Linked DNA regions of Homo sapiens: region 1 is linked to region 2. Evidence: fine-mapped expression QTL. Tissue or cell type: whole blood. Region 2 holds a variant in brackets; the other region holds the start of a gene. All regions are shown on one strand. Distances are between the middles of the regions.

The links. PIP is the estimated chance that this variant, and not a neighbour inherited with it, causes the effect.
Region 1: it holds the start of MED17, and the variant in region 2 is fine-mapped to the expression of MED17 in whole blood (TOPMed, PIP above 0.99). The same link has a PIP of 0.9 or more in lung.

Annotation. Positions count from the first base shown.
Region 1 is chr11:93,779,383-93,787,382 of GRCh38, reverse strand. It overlaps MED17 (mediator complex subunit 17), which reads right to left and starts at 3,101. Exons shown (of 12, transcript NM_004268.5): 1 at 2,620-3,101. The coding sequence starts at 2,869. RefSeq lists enhancers at 317-816, 2,825-3,044, 2,986-3,280 and silencers at 2,369-2,563, 2,565-2,694.
Region 2 is chr11:93,806,699-93,814,927 of GRCh38, reverse strand. It overlaps MED17 (mediator complex subunit 17), which reads right to left. Exons shown (of 12, transcript NM_004268.5): 10 at 7,293-7,410; 11 at 5,052-5,211; 12 at 1-3,075. The coding sequence ends at 2,864. Among named protein-coding and RNA genes, the nearest start is that of MED17, 27 kb to the right of the region's middle. The variant G/A (reference allele first, on the strand shown) is at 3,852.

The DNA.
Region 1 (8,000 bases), 27 kb after region 2:
GGAGTGCAGTAGCGCGATCTCAGCTCACTGCAAGCTCCACCTCCCGGATTCATGCCATTCTCCTGCCTCAGCCTCCCCAGTAGCTGGGACTACAAGCACCCACCACCACGCCCAGCTAATTTTTTGTATTTTTAGTAGAGACGGGGTTTCACCATGTTAGTCAGGATGGTCTTGATCTCCTGACCTCGTGATCTGCCTGCCCCGGCCTCCGAAAGTGCTGGGATTACAGACGTGAGCCACTGCGCCCGGCCCCAGTGAGTGTACCCTTTCAAAGGTTTTTCTATGCACTTACATACATCTATTTCCAATTTTCTATTACTTGCCTTTCCCCCGCCCCCACTTAATATTTCCTAGAGACACTTCCATGTTAGTACTTATGAGTCTACTTAATTCTTCTAACACTGTATGATATTCTGGAACATGGATGTACGGTATGTTTAACCACTTGTATTTAACGGACATGTAGATTGCTTCCAACAAGTAAACTGCTTCCAACAATGCTAGCAGTGGTAAACATCTTGAATATATACCCTGTATATGTGCAACTTTTTCTGCAGGTTAAATTTTTAGTCGTGGTAATAGTGAATCAAAGGAGATATACATTTAAAAGTTTCGGCTGGGTGCAGTGGCTCAGGCCTGTAATCCCAGCACTTTGGGAGGCCGAGGCAGGGTGGATCACCTGACATCAGGTATTTAAGACCAGCCTGGCCAACATGGTGAAACTCTATCTCTACTAAAAATACAAAAATTAGCCAGGCATGGTGCCGCACGCCTACAGTCCCACATACTAGGGAAGCTGAAGTGGGAGAATCGTTTTGAATCCAGGAGGCAGGGGTTGCAGTGAGCCGAGATTGCACCACTGCACTCCAGCCTGGCCGACAGAGCAAGACTCCATCTCAAAAAAAAAAACAAAACAAACCAAAAAAAGTTAAAATTAAATGTTGGCACATATTAAACTGCCAAATTGTCTTTCAGAATCACTACCAGTTCACATTCCTAACCCTGAATATTAACAATCTTTTCAATTTCTGTCAATTTTGTGCATGGAAAGAGTATCTTAATCATGTTTTAATTTCCCAGTCCCTAGTAATGAGATTGAGTCTATGTTCTGTTTATTGGTATCTGAAGTCTCTCCTCTATGAGCCTTCAGATACCTTTGGCCTATTTTTCCAAAGTGTCATTATTTTCTTTTCAGTCTGAAGGGACTTTTTGAATAGAGAAGATATCAACTAAATTTGTGTTATATGTGTAGAACTTCTCCCAGTCTGTCATTTATCTTTTTACTTTGCTTATGGCATCTTTTCCCATTATTTTTAAATTTTATGTAAGTAATATATCTATACTTTGTAAGGTAGGTAGGTGTGTGGTTGTGTGTGTGGATGTTAGAGTCTTGTTCTGTTACCCAGGCTGGAGTGCGGTGGCACAATCATAGCTCACTGCAGCCTTGATCTCACTGGCTGAATCCATCCTCCTCCCTCAGCCTCCCCAGTAGCTGGGACCACAGACGTGCACCACCACGCCCAGCTAATTTTTTTAATTTGTAGAGGCAGGAGCTCCCTATGTTGCTCAGGCTGGTCTTGAAGTCTGGGCTCAAGTGATCCTTCCACCTTGGCCTCCAAAAATGTTGGAACTACAGGTGTGAGCCACCATGCCTGTCCTGTTATTTCCGAAATTAAGAAGATCTATCCGACTCCCAGAATAATACAACTATTCTTTCATTATTTCTTCTAACACTTTGTTTTACTTTCTTCATTTGGCACTTCAATCCTCAAAAATTACTGTGGAAATAATTTTTGTGTGAGGTATAAAGTAGTATTTACCTTTTTTTGCAAATAGACCCCTAATAATCCTAACAGCACTGCCCTGAAATGACATCTTTAAATTCCCATTTACACTGGGTGTGCTGCATAACTAAATTAAGAATTTTGATTTTTTTTTCAAAAATCCTTGACAATAATGAGAATCTGAAACCCACTCATTATTTCTTCACTTCCCTCCTAGTCTCCTCCCTTCCAGTTTTGCTTTCCCTATAATTCATTTATTAGAAAGCATCTAGAGTAAACTTTAACAAAACCATCTCTACTTATCCTGCAAAAGCTTTCAGTGGTCTTAACACTAGTCAAACGCTTATCCCGGCCTACTGGGTTCTACATGATCTGGACCCGCCTACCTCTTGGACCTCGTCACACATTTCAGTCAAAACAGACCTCTTTTCTGCAGGTGCTACTATCATCATTCACACCGCACAAGGATGCAAAGTAACTCGCCCAAGGTCACACAGCCGGCAAGGGGCAGAGCCCCGATCTAGGGCTCTTTTAGCCACTAAGTGTGCTACATTAAAGGCCCTCTACAGAGAAGCATTCATTTAAACATTTCACGGTTTGACAGTGTCTCTAAACGCTGCCATTCAAGGAGACCCGCAGGAGTATTACGTAAAGTCGTGTCCTACCTTGTCCGGCAGCAACAAAAAGATGACGACCAAGTATCCTTACGCTTCCGCTAGAGGGACACTCAAAAGTTCTCGCACGCACAAGATCACCCCCATCGCGGGAGAGGCGGAGGCCCGCGCGGGTGCTGGGACCCAGACCGGGGGACTCGGGCAGCGGATGCAGGCCTTACCTTCCTCGTCGTCCTGGTCTGCGCTGGACCCGGCGCCCGGCCACTCCTGCGCGTCGCCCTCGGTCCCCGCCGCCTCCTCCTCCTCGGAGCCCGAACCCTGGCTGAAGTCTATCCGCTGGGCCAGACGCGCCAGATTCTGCGACATGGACAGCGGGGGCAGGTACGTCTCGGTGCCATCCAGGCCCACCTCATGGACCTGCTTCTCGCAGGCCGATTCGATGCTGATCCGCACTGCGCGCACCCCGGACATGCTGGCTGCGTCGGCCAGCGGTGGGAGGACCCCCCACGAGCCAAAAAACGAGGTACGAAGAGGAGGCTTCCCTGCGGAGAGCCGGGAACTCAGAAGCCCGCAGCCGCGGTGCCTCAGAAGACCCTCGGGAAACCGAACGCAACGCTCAGACTGGAAACAAAGGAGCTGGCCCAGCAACTTTCCCAGAACGCACCGCAAGCTCCCTCCTCGGTAAGTCTTTCGGAGCAAAACTGGGCAGGCGCGGAAGCTCCAGGGTTCCCTAGAGCGCTTCCGGTGAATCACGGTGCAGGGTGGGGTAAACTTCCGGGCCTATAAGAGGCGTGGCCGGCAGAGGGAGGGAAAGAGCGGTTTGGGAGCCGAGAGTGTGGCGGGTATATTCCTTGCTTTTTAAGCCTGCGTTTGTTTAAAAAGTGGATGAGGAAAGAAAGCTGCAGAGGCTAGAAGAGTTAAGGAAAAGGAAATTAATGGATCCTTGGATCTTAGCAATGAGAGTCCTGTTGAGAGAACTGAGATCTGGTGGCGCGCGCCTGTGGTCCAGCTACGCGGGTGGCTGAGGCGGGAGAATGGCTTGAGCCCTGGAGATGGAGGCTGCAGTGAGCCGAGATCTCACCGCTGCATTCCAGCCTAAGCAACAGAGTGGGATCCTGCCTCAAAACAAAAGTTATTTTAAATTAGCAAGAAATTTTTTAAAGAAACACTATCTGAAGAGTTAGAAATTAAGGGCATGGCTTGGGGGAAACAATCGTGCTTATCACCACTTAAAATTATACTACGTAATTATTTGGTTTCCTGTTAGTTATAACTCTATGACAGCCAATATCTGCAGCAGACATAATAGACTCTGGCATGTAGTAAGTGCTTAATATTTATTTTATGCCCGAGTAACAGAATAAATAATGTTGATCTCGCTTTTTTATTAGTGATGGGGTCCCACTATGTTGCCCAGGCTGAGTGCAGAGGTTATTCACAAGTGCTGTCAGCACGCTACAGCCTGGAGCTCCTGGGCTCCAACGATGCTCCTGCCTTAGCCTCCTGAGGAGCTGGGACTATAGGAGCGTGTCACCATGCCTGGCCTGCAAATAATATTTAAAAGATTAAGAAGAAGTGGTATAACTTCAGTCTTTGGGTCTCCAAGAACGTATTTCATTAGTAGGAATTCCACAGACAAAGATGGATTATTTTATATTACAAACCTCTATATTTCGTTTAAGGAATTATATATACCGTTTATCATGAGTGTTTGCCAGGTTTTGTTCTGACCAAGATATATCTAGGTTTTGAACTACTTTCCTAAGGTATTTAGGAAAATACGGTTGCCCTGGTGTCAGTCCCTGCTGAAGAAGAAAGTAGATGGCCGTGTGTGGAGGGGGTTGAATTTTCATGAGAGAAACCTATTTCTGGCAAGCTGTACAGTCTGTCGCCCAATCATGTTCGAGAACCACTGTACTTGCTTTTCGTGTAAATTTGTTTAAAAATTTTTTTTAACTTTATTTTAAAATCTGATTAATAGCCAGGCGCAGTGGCAGTCTAATAGTGCAGACAAAAACAAGACAACAACAAATGATTATGATTCCTAGAATAAGCAAAGCTTTTGCCACCAAGTCTTCAAGATCAAAACTAGCTGCTTAGCCAGTTGTTTAAAGATGTGTTGGATCTGAAAGGTTAGTTGTTAAGGTTTTCATATTATCCATTAACGTAGTGATATTATCTGATTCATCTGGGATACAGACATAACACACAGTTTTTATGATAATGCAAGTTCCTCCCTGGGCTTCGGTGAGTATGTCAAAAGCCATACGGTTTTGTAATAATGGCCTTTTCCATAAGAATAACTATTGTTTAATAATGGAATACTTATGTAGCTATCTTTTGGGTATAATTGGTTAGGACCTCTATATGCCAAATAACATCTTCAACACTCAGTTGTGGTATGAAGATGGAAGCTAAGTGATCATACCAATGAAACACAGGATGAACCCAATGAGATCATAAATAAGGAAAATTTGCAGGTTTTGGCAAAGTACAAACTACTCAAATATATGATTAAGCATAACCTGAAAAACATCATCCTAACTATCCTGGAAGTAACCATGGTCATAGGTTAGTGCCACATAGCCAAAATGTTCCATTTGGAGCTAATCAATAAATACATTAAATGGCATGCCAGTCAGTACTTTGTAATATAATGGTGTGAATACACAGTTCTTTGGGTATCCATGCCATATCTCCAGTGCTTTTGGGCCAGATATCTTTGGTATGATTTCTTTGTTCCCAACATAAAGGGGCAAAGTGGCCAGGCACGGTGGCTCACGCCTGTAATCCTCCACTTTGGGAGAATGAGGCGGGTGGATCACCTGAGGTCAGGAGTTCGAGACTAGCCTGGCCAACATGACGAAACCTCGTCTCTACTAAAAATACAAAAACTAGCTGGGCGTGGTGATGCATGCCTGTAATCCCAGGTACTCAGAAGGCTGAGGCAGGAGAATCACTTGAACCCAGGAGGCAGAGATTACAGTGAGCCAAGATCTCACCACTGCACTCCAGGCTGGGCAACAGAGTAAGACTCTGTCTCAAAAAAAATAAATAAATAAAAAGTTGGGGTGGCAAGGACAAGGTGGCTGGGCTGACAGAAGGAGGGATAAGCCAGATAAAACCATCCCCAATTTGTGTTATACCATTCTGAAATCAAGGTGTCTTATCTCTTAATTGGAACAGTGTCGTTGTTTCATTACTTAGTTGGGACAGTGCCAGCATTAAAGTTAACAAACTAGTTTCTTTTACTAAGAAGCTCCTTCCATGGCTTTTACTCTGTAAAGGTTTTGTTTCGTTTTGTTTTGTTTTGTTTTTGTTTTGTTTTTTGAGATGGAGTTTTGCTCTGTCACCCAGGCTGGAGTGCAGTGGTGCGATCTTGGCTCATTGCAACCTCCGCCTCCTAGGTTCAAGTGATTCTCCTGCCTTAGCCTCCCGAGTAGCTGGGACTACAGGTGCACACCACCACGACTGATTAATTTTTGTGTTTTTAGTCGAGACAGGGTCTCACTTTGCTGGCCAGGCTGGTCTCAAACTCCTGAGCTCAGTCGATCTGCCCGCCTTGGCTTCCCAAAGTGCAAGGATTACAGGTGTGAACTACTGCGCCCAGCCTTTAAAGTATTATTAATAGGCTAGTGATGTACTTTATCCTTCATCATACTACTGTCAAGCACCATGACTGTTTTTAAGAAACACAAATATATTTCTGATATTCTATGCAATATCTTCTCTCCTTGGAGCAATATATTTCTTTCCTTGGAGAGAAGATACCCACCAGGAAAGCCAGAACTACTGGAAAGGGGCATGAGACCACATGTTCAATCAGCATTTTTTTAAATAATCTATTAGCATAGTCCTAAGCCCATTGCAAAAAGAGGTTTGCTTTATGGGCAACAGTTAATGATAGTAGTGCCGAGACATGAAAACTAAGGACAAAAAGAAAGAAGTTTAATGGGAGCTTGTAAAGGAAAGTCTTCCCCATGTATTAACATTTGCTAATATTAAGCATTTGTTTAGATACAGGCCTGGTTTGGAGTCTTGGGTTTTAGCCACCTACATCAGATGTTATCTTGTTCTAGACCTGTCATTGACTTATTTTGAAACAGAGATCACCTTCTGGGGAAACAGTCCCTCAGGAGATGGAGCCCTCTTCAGATCCAGACATGGATCCAGGAGTCTATTCTAGTTTCTGTTTTTTGTTTTTTTGAGATGGAGTCTCATTCTGTCACCCAGGCTGGAGTGCAGTGATGCAATCTCAGCTCACCGCAACCTGTGCCTCCAGGGTTCAAGTGATTCTCCTGCCTCAGCATCCCCAGTAGCTGGGATTACAGGCAGGTGCCCACCATCACACCCGGCTAATTTTTGTATTTTTAGTAGAGATGGGGTCGCGCCATCTTGCCCAGGTTGGTGAACTCCTGAGCTCAGGCGATCCATCCACCTTGGCCTCCCAAAGTGCTGGGATTACAGTCATGAGCCACCACACCCGGCCAGGAGTCTATTCCTTCTAATATAATAGCAAAAGGATTACTAAGAAGCACTTGGTAAGAGCCCTTCCACTTGGTTGGAGACAGTCCTTTAGAGGATGTTGTTCCCAGTAGATACAGTCTCCTGGATGAAAATTGTGGGTCTTGAATTTTTCATATCCCAAGAGCCCATTAGGAAATAATCTTTCACTAGGTAATAATTTTTAGTTAATTATCTCATAAGGTTAGAACAACAAAGGAATATATCTCCTCTTACAGTTAAGGAGTTACCATTTCCTGGGACAGATTCATAGCTATGTGAGTTATTATTTCAAATGGGTACAACTGATGTATTCCAAAGGGGTTGATCTTGGGTTAAGCAAAGCCAATAGAAGCCTTTGGCCATGGGATCTTAAAAATTTGTGTTATTGGCCAGGCAAAGTGACTCACGACTGTAATCCCAGCACTTTGGGAGGCTGAGGTGGGCGGATCACAAGGTCAGGAGTTCGAGACCAGCCTGGCCAATATGGTGAAACCCCCTTTTCTACTAAAAATACAAAAATTAGCTGGGCGTGGTAGTGAGCACCATTCCCATTCACAATTGCTTCAAAGAGAATAAAATACCTAGGAATCCAACTGACAAGAGATGTGAAGGACCTCTTCAAGGAGAACTACAAACCACTGCTCAACAAAATAAAAGAGGACACAAACAAATGGAAGAACATTTCATGCTCATGGATAGGAAGAATCAATATAGTGAAAATGGCCATACTGCCCAAGGTAATTTATAGATTCGATGCAATCCCCATCAAGCTACCAATGACTTTCTTCACAGAATTGGAAAAAACTACTTTAAAGTTCATATGGAACCAAAAAAGAGCCCTCATTGCCAAGTCAATCCTAAGCCAAAAGAACAAAGCTGGAGGCATCACACTACCTGACTTCAAACTATACTACAAGGCTACAGCAACCAAAACAGCATGGTACTGGTACCAAAACAGAGATATAAACCAATGGAACAGAACAGAGGCCTCAGAAATAATACCACATATCTACAACCATCTGATCTGTGACAAACCTGACAAAAACAAGCAATGGGGAAAGGATTCCCTATTTAACCAATGGTGCTGGGAAAACTG
Region 2 (8,229 bases):
AAGGAGGCCAGGCATGGTGGCTCATACCTGTAATCCCAGCATTTAAGGGCCAATTACAATTCCTGATCAACATGAGATAATCAGGTTATCCCTTTGATTTGATGGTGTTCCAGCAAAGAAATCTGATGAAAAACACTCAATATCTTCACCATATATAAAACATCATACAAATATGAATACAGGACATTCTGAAATGCTTTCTCCTAATAAATACAGCTGGTGTCTCAACCATTTTTTCTAATTGGCTTGACTCTTAGAAGCACACTTGCTTAATGCTTTATATTTATGTAGTACTTTAGAATTTAACATTTATTACCAACGTTACTGAAACTTCTCAATCACCACTGAGGTTAGTAGAGGAGGCACCTCTATCTTCATTTATATATAAGGAAACAAGTTCACAGAGAATCCTTGCCAAGTTCATACAGCAAGCCAGTAGCAGAGCCAAGATTCAAACACAGCTCCTTGCCAACCTGTTAATACTTGTTGAGGGGCTAATTGGTTTTCTTCAAACTGTCTCCCAAGTTTCCATAGCACATCCTTCAAACTCCAGGAAATTCAGGTTAAAACATTAAACTAGAAAATGTAAATAAATACAAGGCATAAGAATTGCTACCACAGCAACTAAGCTACCATTTTCCCACACATTTGCTTTAGTTTCTACAATTCTTTAGGTCGGTACTGGCTACTCACTACAGCGACGTACCAAACAGGGAAAGTAAGACATGAAGAACGTAAAGTCTTCAGTTATCCCACTCTACTCAGATGGGGTTTAAAAGAACAGACGGTAGTATCTGCACATGTATTCTCAGCCATTCTACTCAAGGTGTGGTCCTGGTCCATGATTTGTTACTGATTCATGACAAGCAGAGAAATAAAAAATAAAGCATTCAGAAATGTTTATATTTGGGGGGGCTGGGCACTGTGGCTTATGCCTGTAATCCTAGCACTTTGGGAGGCCGAGGTGGGCGGATCAATTGAGGCCAGGAGTTCAAGACCAGCCTGGCCAAGATGGCAAAACCCTCTTATCAAAATTACAAAAATTAGACGGTCGTGGTGGCACACACCTGTAATCCCAGTTACTCGGGAGGCTGAGGCATGAGAGTCATTTGAACCCAGGAGGCAGAGGTTGCAGTGAGCCAAAACAGTGCTGCTGCACTCCAGCCTGGGGAACAGAGTGAGACTCTGTCTATAAATTCTAGTATTTGATGCAATTTAATCAAGTTATAATCAAATAAATGGGGCTTTTATTTTGTATCTTTTCAAAATTTCATTTTAGGAATTCATTTTTATTAGTTTACCAAAGTATCAATCTGCAATGGGAGAAGTTTATATAAACAAAAACTGGTCATTCAGCAAAAGTCTCAGACTCACTCTTCTAGCCTGAGCCTTCAAAATCACATAAAAGACTCCTTATGTGAGTGGAATTGTGCAGATTAGCCTATTGACCAAGGCAAATTTTGCAGGCAACAATAATTTTTGAAGCACTCAAGATTTTTAAATAACTGCAAATTCATACCAATTATTTTAATTTCCATGGATAGAAAGATGCAAGATCTTGATCAGAAGGGGAAAAAAGCACAAAGTTGTTCTATCGTGGCCCACAAGCTCCATTTTTCTTTAATGAAAACACGGTGGAGAAATACAAAGGACTTTTATTACTGCACAGTCATCTTACAAATTGTTAAAGCAGGATGTCTGTTTTAAAAATTGAAAGCCTTACTTATAAGGAGAGCTTGCCTATATGATACTACTTTCAGTGTTACCAAAAGGCTTATGAGCCTAAATCTATCCTCATATTAATGGGCACACTTTAGGCACTTTTTCCAAGAAGTGCAAACCTGTTCCTTGGAAAAGATAACCCACTAATCCATTAGTTTTTTCGCTTTGAAAAAGCAGAGAGCTGATGGAAAGGCCTTAATTGGAGAAAGCAATCCAGGGCTGCTGGGTGGAGGCTGGAGAATCCCAGGTGGAAGGCTGGGCATGAGCCATACACTAGGTGTCTCAACTGGTGAGGTCAATCAAGTGGGAGAACAGACCAAAAAAACTTGAGGACGCCCTAAAGAGATAATCTGCCTCCTATTGCCTTCAGCTGTCCTTTCTGAGGATGTTCTTAAATTACCTATGTAGGTTAGACCCAGGAAAGCTTAAAGGAGACAACTGGAGGAAGAGGTTATCAATAATTTAGAGTAGGCTGGGCATGGTGGCTCACGCCTGTAATCCTAGCACTTTGGGAGGCAGAGGCAGGTAGATCACTTGAGCCGAGTTCGAAACCAGCCTGGGCAACATGGAAAAACCCTGTCTTTATAAAAAATACAAAAATTAGCCAGGCGTGGTTGTGCATGCCTGTGGTCCCAGCTACTCGGAAGGCTGAGACAGAAGGATCACCTAAGCCTGGGAGGTCAAGACTGCAGTGAACCATGATCACACCACTGCACTCCAGACTGGGCTACAGAGTGAGATACCATCTCAAAAAAAAAAAGTTTAGAAAGTATTTGGGGGGAAAAAAAGGTATTTGGAGATTTTTTTAAACCACATACTTTATTTGATGTCAACATCAAAGAAGGAATATTTTAAAAAGCACATAGAAACCCTTAAGTTAGTAATATTTTAAACTGCATGAAAAACATATTATTTTACATCTTGTCATACTGTATATACAACTGTACATAAACTTCTGCATTTCAAAGCACTTGTCATTTATAAAGTGAAAAGTTTGAAAGTGCTAAATAAACATTTCCTAATTATTATTTTTAAAAACAGCACTCTTTTGGAAGTTATCTCTTCTTTGTGCTTATAGTTGATCTGCAAACATTTCAAGTCAAAGTTTCTGGAAACTTCTTTAGGAAACATCTGGAAAAAATCATAGTAGACAAGGGCTAAGTGCAGACATAAGCAGCTCCATTTTATAAACAAAATTTCGACCTTCCATTTTATTCCACTGAACTTCTTTGAATGGCCCACGAAGATGACTCCATTTGTTATCTTGTAAAACATCACTTTTTGGAAGGTCTTTACATTGGTTACGAGGAAACTGAACCATAATCTTGCTGCCACTTTCAGGTCCATTACGAACTGTGGAGAAAAACCAAAATATCAATACACTCTAGTTTACCAAACTAGAAATAACAAGGATAAATCCCACAACTCCATTCTACTGTGAATACAAAAACTTTGTCTACCAACTTAAATATTCTTGTAAAAAAGTGCTTTTTCAGTTTCAACATGCAAGAGAAAAACTCTAACTTCTATATAAGAGGATGGTATAAATATTCATGAATTATTATTTGTACCACAAAGATTAAGCAAGGTGAGTTTTGACCTAGGAATGTCAAATGTCCTCTATAATTTCAGGAAATCATCTTTTTGTTTGTTTCCACATGCAGCACTGAAAAACACAAAGCTTTTTTTGGGAGGCGGTTAAAGACAAGGTCTCTCTATGTTGCCAGGGCTGGTCTCAAACTCCTGGGCTCAAGCAATCCTCCCACCTCAGCCTCCCAAAGTGCTGGGATTACAGGCGTGAGCCACCACGCCTAGTACACTCACCTATTTTTTTCAATACATTCATTTGATAAGGCAATCATTCAATGAATTGTTAATACATGCCTAATATGTAAAGAAACCTCAACCACTTAAAATCAGGACTGAAAGGGATGAAGGAAAGATTATTCTGAATTAAGAATTTCAGGTTTTAATGAGGTTTTAACTATTATTTGGGAAAGAGGAAAAGGGTATTTTGAAATTCCTAGCAATCAAGATCCAGCAATGACCAAGCTTGCAGATTCACAAGCTGTGATCCTGTGAGGAAATATTTCTAACTACCCACTCTTTCAAATACAGTCATGAGCTGC[G/A]TAACATTTCAGTCAACTGCTTTTGTTGTGTTACAACTGCCTATAGTATTCAGTACAGTAACATGCTGTACAGGTTTGTAGCCTAGGAGCAACAGGCTATGCCATGAAGCCTAGATGTGCATGTAGTAGGCTGTACCATCTAGGGCTGTGTAAGTGCACTCTATTATCATACGATGAAATCCTCTTAACAACACATTTCTCAGAACCTGTCCCTGTCATTATGCAACACATGACTGTATTTTTAAAGTAGTCAGAGCAGATATCAGAAACAAAGATCACACTAAAACCATAAGCGCTTCAAATGTAAATTTAAGCTATGTAATACTCATACAAGTGCCTATTAAAGTGCCCACTCGTAGAAGGTGCTTAATAAAATACTTCTCCTCGGCCGGGTGCGGTGGCTCACGCCTGTAATCCCAGCGCTTTGGGAGGCCGAGGCAGGCGGATCATCTGAGGTTAGCCGAGGCAGGCAGATCATCTGAGGTTAGGAGTTTGAGACCAGCCTGGCCAACATGGCAAAACCCCGTCTCTACTAAAAATACAAAAATTAGTTGGGTATGACGATGGGCACCTGTAGTCCCAGCTACTCGGGAGGCTGAGGCAGGAGAATCGCTTGAAACTGGGAGGCAGAGGTTGCAGTGAGCTGAGATCACGCCACTGAACTCCAGCCTGAGCGAAAGAGCGAGACTCCGTCTCAAAAATAAATAAATAGATAAAATAAAACAAAACACTTTATTTAAAATTATTTTTAATTATTTATTTTAGAATATTTTAAAAACTGTTACTATTTTTTTAATGTGAAAAAAGTAGTACCTTGCATTAGATATTCCTCTCTGTTCCATCCCTTTACTATTTTTAGGATCAGATATTTTTCTTCCCATGTTTACAGCAGTATATATTTTTTTTAAAGTTTTTATCCATTAAACTTTGGGACTGCAGGAGTAACAATGCTGATGATACTTTTCAGACTATCTCAGGAAAATGTGCTGCCAATCTAAACATTTATTATAATTACTAGAAAGAGAAATAATAATCTCTTGCTCTGCATAATAGCTATGATCAAATAAACATTCGGTGTAAATACAACATTAACTAATTTATTGCAGAGATAAATTACTCTTACCCATATTTAATTATTAAAACTAAATGTTAAAGCCAAACTCCCAATGGTCCCTTCTCATTCAAAGCAGCAGAAAGTACCTGAAATAGCATAGTCACCACTTGGGGAGGCCACCGTGATGGCAGATGCATTACCAATGCTCTCTATAGGTCCAAGTCCCACATGATTACTGAAGCTCAGTACTTGCCAGCCCATAACCTTGGCGAGTTGCTGAACTGCATGTACCTGGTGCTGTGACATCTGTGAATGAAAAAGGACACTTGACTGACAGTCAGCAGAGATATCTGCAGTGACTTAACATCACGACCATGAAGTAAACTTTTGTTGGGGTGCTCACTGACTACTACAGCAACCCTATCTTAGGTCTGAGGAATCCTCCTGTGCGTAACTTAGGGGGAGGGAATAGGACTCCACCTTCCACTGCCAAAGCTAAAGTTGCCTGATACTTGCTTCTCCTGCCCACTGGCAGCTTAAGCAAAGACATATGACATAAATTTGGCCAACTGAAGACTCTCATCTAGATCACTGAATATGGTGTAACATTTGCCCCTTCAAATCCACTGCCTACCTTATTTTCTGCCCTGGGAGGCTGACACACGTGGTTACATTAATACCTTCTTACATCCTCTGGCTTTGGGCTGGGTTCAGGTAATGGGAGACAGCAGGATGGCAGGGAAGAGTGAGGTCAGGGTATTTATTCCCCTGGCACCCTCCCTGTGAGGTTGTCTAGGCTGGTTGTATCTCTTGACTGGCTGCTAGGCTTCTCAAGATGGACTGTTCTACACGACTCTCCCCCTTAGGGTTCTTGTAATCTGTCCTTCCTCTTAACTTTGGCCTAGGAATGGTGACCACTAAGTCCCTGGGGCCTGGTTACCTGGTTACTACTACTAGCAGCAGGTTACCACACTATCCCTGGTGGCTCACCTACACCCACTTCTTTGTAAATAGATCTTTAGATCCTCCTGAGTCTGCCACCTATTTCTTGTTAAGACTCTGACTGATACAATGGGGGCAATTTAGAATGCATTTTGTCACCAGTGCTGAAGGCAGTAGTGCTGGGACAGCATGAGTGCCATTCCTCTGGCCATGGTTCTCATACCTAGCTTTGATCCCTATCCATTTGCAAGCCTTGTTCTCTAGACCTCCCATTGATTCTGGGACCTACTCAATAGTGTTCTAATATATTTTTGTGTGTGTGCTTAAAGTAACCAAAGCCAATTTAGATGTAATCAGCCAAGAGCTGCCATACCTAACAAATGAATTTTACTTACTTGGCCACCAAAGAAGCAAATCAGTATATAAGATTATTGCTTCTGAGATATAGGGTAGGTTTTTGAAATGCTAATGCAAGATACTATTTTTTTTAATGTGAAAAAAAAATAGTATCTTGCATTAGCATTTCAAAAACCTACCCTATATCTCACAATTCAGTATTTCACTGGGTCATTAAAAACTCCATGAAGAAATTAGGGAAAATACAGTTAGATATGAAAAGAAAGGGCTAGAAATTTGTCTGATGTCACAAAGCAAGTTTGTCGTAGAGCTGGGACTAGAACACATCACCTTTTTTTTTTTTTTTTTTTTTTTAAAAAGAGATGGTATCTTGCTCTGTCACCCTGGGCTGAAGTACAGTGGGACCAATTATAGCTCATTGTAACCTTGAACACCCAGGCTCAGGCAACCCTCCTGCCTCGGCCTCCCTAATAGCTATGACTATAGGTACATACCAACACACCCACTCAATTTTCTATTTTTGTGGAGACAGGGGTCTTGCTATGTTGCCCAGGCTGGTATTGAACTCCCAACCTGAAGTGATACTCTCGCTTCAGCCTCCCAAAGTGCTGGGATTATAGGCGCAAACCACCATACCCAGCCTCAAACCCATCACTTTCTATACTGCCCCTTGGACTTGAGATTAAACTACTTCATTTATTATGGATAATGGTCATTATAGTTTTTTATATGATCTCCCTTTCTCTAGTTTTCTTCACTTTCTACAACAACTCTGGAGATGTTGTAAACCCTAGAGATTTTGTAAACCTTCACAAATATGACATGTGGGAAAAAAAACTTGCTAGTCTCAGAACTGGTCCTTCATCTTAACATAAACTATGTGAAAACCTAGGACAGCTTATCAGTACTTCCAGTTAACCAACAGGTTGTAAAATGTGCATTAGAAATTAAACAGAATTTAATTTCTACTGGAAAAAAATTTTTTTTCTTCTTACACAATTTATTACATTTTAACTACTTTTTAACCAATTTGTTCTTTAAGTAGCTATGCGAAGAAGGGGGCTTAAGACAAAATCTGCAACTGTTACCTGAGACAGAAGAAAATCCTGTAGCTCCTGCTCCTGATAAGACAGTGTAATTACTCTTCCATCTCTATGTACAACTCGAATCTGCTCAACTCCAATATTCAATTGCAGTTGAATGGACCTTTATAGACACACATACTAAAAATCAGAGATGTTCAAAATTATCTTATACAATTTCATAAATAATAAACGTTAACATCAAATTAGAAAATATTATTATTTTTTAGACAAAGTCTCAAAGCCTGTTGCCCAGGCTGGAGTGCAGTGGCGTGATCTCAGCTCACTGCAACCTCCGCTTCCTGAGTTCAAGAGAGTCTCCTGCCTCAGCCTCCCAAGTAGCTGGGATTACAGGCACCTGCCATCATGCCCGGCTAATTTTTGTTATTTTTAGTAGAGACGGAATTTCACCATGTTGGCCAGGCTGGTCTCAAACTCCTGACCTGAAGTGATCTACCTGCCTCGGCCTCCCAAAGTGCTGGGATTACAGGCCTGAGCCACTGCACCCGGCCAAAAAAAAAAGTTTTAATAACCCACACCAACATCCATGGAGGAGATGCAGGTGTCTTCTTAGGTTCAACTAAACAGACTCACCCCAGAATACCATAGACCACACTGAGTACCAGTCTACCCAGAAGCATTTGAAGCGACCACAGCTTGCCAGCAGACCATGCAACTGTCTATATAGCAGCAGAATACCTTTGTTGCAAGGAGATGAGATCCAATTGGGTATATGTGGGCCCTGCCCTAACAGGAGCCATAAGCTTCTGTAACAACTCCATAGGCATGGTTTCCACAAGCCAAGCCCAGTTTTAAAAGTCACCACCATCCAGGAAAATCCAAAGGCATTCCCATCATTTATTTAAAATTTCTCCTGGTTCAGATGCATTTTACCAATTTGAGATCATTTTTACTATAAGCAATGTTGCCTAGTAATACTGAT